Linked DNA regions of Homo sapiens: region 2 is linked to region 1. Evidence: fine-mapped expression QTL. A gene starts in region 1. The other region holds a variant in brackets. All regions are shown on one strand. Distances are from middle to middle.

Evidence for each region. PIP is the estimated chance that this variant, and not a neighbour inherited with it, causes the effect.
Region 2: its variant is fine-mapped to the expression of PLOD2 in spinal cord (GTEx, PIP 0.95).

What each region holds. Positions count from the first base shown.
Region 1 is chr3:146,159,662-146,162,576 of GRCh38, forward strand. It overlaps PLOD2 (procollagen-lysine,2-oxoglutarate 5-dioxygenase 2), which reads right to left and starts at 1,523. Exons shown (of 20, transcript NM_182943.3): 1 at 1,220-1,523. The coding sequence starts at 1,328.
Region 2 is chr3:146,079,348-146,082,262 of GRCh38, forward strand. PLOD2 (procollagen-lysine,2-oxoglutarate 5-dioxygenase 2) reads right to left here. Exons shown (of 20, transcript NM_182943.3): 12 at 2,391-2,516. Among named protein-coding and RNA genes, the nearest start is that of LNCSRLR, 12 kb to the left of the region's middle. The variant T/A (reference allele first, on the strand shown) is at 1,465.

The DNA.
Region 1 (2,915 bases):
AAAAGTTTAGTTCAAATTTAGAGGAATCACACGGGTTCAGAAATCCATTTTTAAATGGTCACATATACCTAACAGAAAGAAAAGCATCCTGTAACTGATAGAAATCCATCTGAATGCTGAAGTTTCTCAAGCTAACAAAGCAAGCACTGTTTTGTAGAAAGATAGGCAGTTCAGCCTGCTGACGCTTTCTGAAACACTTAAAGATGAAGACAAAACTATCGCTACATGGATTAGCTGGACTGCAAACCAAATGTCACTTTCTGAATGTAACTCTGAAATAGAAATTTCTGTCCTTAGGCTTAAGAAAAGTTCAAGTAGAAAAGCACTCTATTATAAACTTGGGGGAAAAAATGGTGCCAAGATGACTTAACAAAAAACAAAACAAAACAAAAAGGACATTAGAAGGTCATTTAAATGCAAGATCTAATTTCAGAGAGTTGAGCACAAAGAGCACAAATGTGGAAAACTCCAAGGATTTTTCATGTGCCACAAAAGGCAGCAAAGCATGTTTAGACAGACGTGGTGAAACTCTCTTTAATCTGGCTAAATATAAAACGTTTTGTTTTACACAGCTTCTGAAAACGAGAGACAGCACCGGGCTCAAGAAAAGGGTAGGTAAGGGGAGCAGCTGTGTGTCCACAGCTTCCCCTTCAGATCCCAAAGGAAGAAAGCTGCCGCCTGGAGGTACTGGGTAGCCAGGCAGCCTTACTGAAAACAACTAAGGTTTTCGAGCGAGCGTTGTTTTTGGCAAGAGGGAGGTGTTACCGGCTGCTTCCTGGGGTGCTGGAAGGAATGTGTCACCATCAATTAGAAAGTACACTAAGCCCCGTGTTTAGGTCACAGAAGGAGTACTGCCTCGTCCATCAAGGATAAATCCATGCCAACTCTCGGAAAGGAGGGGAAAGGAGAGCTGCAGGAAAGGTGTTGGTGCCCATGACCTGCAAGTCCAAAAGGAAACTCCAACTTGTTCTGCAGGGAAATTCGGGCACGCTGAGTTCACCGAGAACTCCAAGGAGTCAACGAGGGCGGGTGCCCCTACACTTCCCCAGGGACCAGCGCCGCCCGACCGCAATTCTGGGGAAGACCCCGGCGGTCCTGGAGAGGAGGGACAGGCCCCCACTACTCACCTGGCCAGCCCCGCGGAAGGGCTGGTGGATGAATGAACTGCCCCCCCGCCGGCCGAGCCTCGCGGGACAGCGGCGGACCGCGGGGTGCTCACCTGTGGGGATGCTCGAGGGCTTCTCCGAGTCCGCACCCAGACAGGGATTCCAGGGGTGGAGGACGAGCGCCAGGAGCAGCAGCTGAGGCTTCACCGTGCATCCCCCCATATTCGGCCCTCGAGGGCCGCGCGGGCTCAGGCGCCCACGGCCCCGCAGCGCCGCGCTTCTCGCGAGAACGCAGAGACCCGGGTCCGCCCTGAGCCGCCGATTGCGGGCGGGAGCCGGCGGGCAAGGCGCGCGGCCGGCAGCCGGAGCGGCGCGTAACGCAGCTGAGTGAGGTCGTCGGTGGAGGCACGGAGCAGCAGGCGCCCGGGGCGCTGCGGAGGCCTTATAGGCTCCCCGAGGGGAGGCGACGGGGCGGGCCGCGCCCTGGCTATTGGCCGCCGGCTGACCCGCCGCCGCTGCGCGCCCGGTGCGGTCGCCTCAGCTCGCCCTCCTGGGCCCCACGTCTGGACTGTTTGCTCAGCGCGGACGCTATTTAAGGAGCTGCCTGCGGCTACGTGTGGAGGCTCACGCAGCGCTTCTGGCTGGAACGGGGAAGCCTGCACTTAGCTTTGGGAGTGGGTTTGGGAGAGGGAGGAGGAGCCGCCGGGAGTCTGGCGGGAGGGCGGTGTTCCCGTCTGGGTTCCTCTCTGCTGTCCCAGCCCCGGTAGCTTCCACAGCAGCCTCGAAGGGTGAGAATTTGCTCTTCTATGGACTTGGATACTCCACCCAGTCTGAAGTGACTGCAAATCTGCGGCAATCTTGGCTGACTGGGACCTCGCCAGACTCTTAAGCCATGGAAATGGATCGCCCCTCATTAATTCAGGGGCAGGTTCATCACCCTGTAAAAGGAAGGCCGTGATTTTATTTTACTCCGTAAACCGAAAGTTTTATTGTCCAGTGAACATTTCTTGCTCCGCCGCTTGTGCCAAGAGAGCCTTAGACTCTTTCCAGTAATGAGGCTTGTAAATCCTGCGGAATCGGAGCCCAACGTGTGTAATGCCGGGGCTGTGCTTACAAGATCGTGCTCCAGTCCGCATGGAAAATTACTCCCAAAGACGTGGTCGGAGAGGTCGAGATCTCTGAGCCTTGGCCCCCACTGCTTCCACTTTTGACTGATGTCTAAGAAAATTCCCTTTTTTCTGTTCTCACATTTTAACTAGCCAAGGGTTTAACTTGTTGGAATGAGTGGGAGCAAAAGCACAATTAAGAAAAAAGCTTGACAGTTTTGCCTCATACATTTAATGACATAAGCTATTTTATAGGAGAAAGAGAACCAAACTGCTACCATTCTGGAATCTCCTGCCTAAATTTTCGTGAAATTAGAAAAAAACAGAATCGAGACAACACCCGTTATAACTCTGGGCCTTTGAAATTAAGACAGAAAATTATGGAAAAATGTGTTCCATTATGATCACGTTTTGTCTAAAATTAACATATCAAGATAACATGAACTTAATGCTTTCATCTTGATAGCATTAAAAACAGGTGGAAAACCCTGCAAAGAAATCTTGCCTGGGATGTGACATTTTAGAAAGAATCATTTCCTGTGCCCAGAACTAAGCCAGTTATTACTCTGTTTTGAAGGTTTGGTCTCAGTTTTTTAAAAGAAGAGGAAAACTGGAGAAAGTTCTGAGAAGAGTAACAAATAATTAAAGAAGTGGAAACTATGACCTGTGAGAAGAATGAAATAAGGTTTATTTAGTCTGAAGG
Region 2 (2,915 bases), 80 kb before region 1:
TAGATTTTGTATACATAAATTATTGAATCAACATACAAATATATTCAATGATATATATATAAGATTACATTGTATACACTATATTTAATGAGATTTAGGAGATAAACCACTGCCCCTTTGGATACATTTCAATTTTGGGTTGGTATCTGTTTGGCATTTGTATTATAGCTATCATATCTCAATCAGTTGTTACAATTAGACTATTATAATCTATTGTATAGACGGTGTTTCTATTTAAAATTAAAGAATTTGATAGCATGAATCATAACATACAACCAGTGGTGCACTAGACCCAGCTCATACTGGCTCCCCAAAGTTAACTTTTTCTGCCAAGTCCATGTTCAGTAATTTCACATTGGAAACTTGAAATCAGCCATGGTAGAAGTATTTACACCAAACAAATGGGCAAGCACTTTAAATCAGGGAATCCTCCACCTCCAAAAGCCAGTTGTTACACATTTACCAAAATACCACTGAATATAGCCTAAAATTCTCCAAAATTATATTCTCTTACCATTCATTAAGCCATCTTAAATATTTTATAGAAAAAGGAAAACATGAAGAAATACAGCTGGGAGCACATGAACGTTGCATCCTTTCCCACATCTATATTCTCACTCTGAACATGACTGATTTCATAAAAACTGCAAAACAAGTTTTGCCCCTAAGACTGTGCGCCTTTCTTTTAGAGAACATCAAGGCAAGATCTTGACCAAGAAATGCAGTTAGATATTAACGGAAATATGATATTATGTCTTACTAGACTAGCCTCAAAGAAAAATGCCTTAAGGAGTACAGCAGTCCCCGCCTTATGTGAGGGTGATACATTCCATGACCCCAGTGGATGCTTGAAAGCAGATAGTAACAAACGCTACACATACACTACGTTTTTTCCTACACATATATACTTATAATAAAGTTTAATTTATACATAAAGTACAGTAAGACTAACAACAATAATAGAACAACTATAACAATATGCTGTAATAAAAGTTACATGAATGTTTACACTTTCTCTATCTCAACATATCTTCGTATTTTCAATCCACAGTAGACTTGAAACCATGGAAAGCAAAACCATAGATAAAGGGGAATTACTGTATACAACGTGTCAGCTAAATTCAGAAATTAATCTCTGGGGAATTATTCAGTGTTTCAACTTATACACACACACATACACACACACACACAGTTGCTCCTTCGTGTAGCTTTTGGACATGAAGTGTATTCCAGATCAAAAGCTTCTGCCATATTTTTTTCCTTATACTTTAGACAAGAATGACAGGAGGTTGGACAGAAAATCACCAATGCCTAAAGCAACTTGAAACAAATTTTCCATTCTACTTTCACAAACCCTCATTTGTGATGTGCCCAAAGATACAATCAGGTATATTGTCTATACAACTCACCCAGAGTCAATACAACTGCACAGAAACAACAGAATACGATCTTAATAGTCTTTTC[T/A]CCTCCACTGTGCATTTTAATTGCAGCTAACAAAAACCTTTATTGTATTTACATCATTCAGATTGAAGCTTTCCACACCAATTACTATTTCCACAAGCAACACATCTTTTTACCACTCAACTGTTTGAACAGAAACGTGTGCCTTTTTTTTTCTAAATGTAAGGGCACATCCTTTTAGTCCTGAGAGTATACTGCCCCTTTTTAATCAGGCTGACATGTTTGAGAACTAAGGCAAAGCATGTAATGTCTTAGTCACTCTGGTCCATCATATGTATGAAAAAAAGAATGACATTCTTCTCCAATATTACCTTAGCAAAACTATTTCAATTGTGATTATTTTTAGTAATCAACCATTGTCTCTGAAATAAATATAAATCATGCACACACTTTTCAGCAAATATATTCTTTTCAATCTCTAGAAGTGAAAATCTAATATTGGTAAAAAAAACTTGTATTTAAAGCAGAATAATAGCTATTTCACACAAAAAAACTCATGCAATCAGGAATACTGGAATGTTCTGGCTGTTAGTGTTACTGTTGGCTTAATTATAAATTTTAAAACCTATCAAAACAACCCTTAATTATAACCATTAAAAAGTTAGTAAACTAAATCCCCTTTCCAAGCTTTTAAATAAAGAGTATTACTCTTCTATCAACCATAATGTGAGTATGGTAAACATATATTATCTCTTAGTATTCCCCACAGCAATGAGCTTGTTCCTTTGAAGATTTGGGACTTTAAAAACATTTTTTTAAGATATTAGTTTTATACTAGTATTTCAGGATTCCAAGTGGTCTTGGGTTCTCAAATTCCCATTAACTATAAAGAAAAGAGATGAATGCAAAAAAAATTTCAAGTAATACTAACAAGACTACATCTTTAGATTATGGTATTTCACATTAAAATATTAAACCAAGTAACTTACACTCTATTCCCTTGAACAATATCCACATAATCTTCAGATCGTGCATAGTATCCATCAGGACTCAATGCTCCCCAGAAATTGGACCACAGCTTTCCATGACGAGTTACAAGAGGAGCAATGATCTTTCTAAAGACAGAGAGAGTGTGTGTGAGAGAGAGAAACCTATATAATTATTTATTTTTAAATTACCACAGAATTATGTATTTTGGGCTTAGTATGACATATAACACAAGAAAGCTCATTCAACAAACCTGTAGTTAATAAAAATAAAATAAGGATCTTCTTTCCCAACATCTTTTCTTAAGTAAGTATATTGCTAATTTTCAATCATATTTCTTAAAAAGAGTAACAAAGAAGGAAAAAGTAATTGAAAATGCTAATGAATACATAAAAATGACTTTTAAAAATGCCTTGCTTACATCCAACAGAGGGAAACTACTTTAGTTATTTAATTATATTTAAGTTTAACTAAAGTATTTCGGAACCTATATTAAATGAAACCAAATATTTTCATTGTCACTGGGT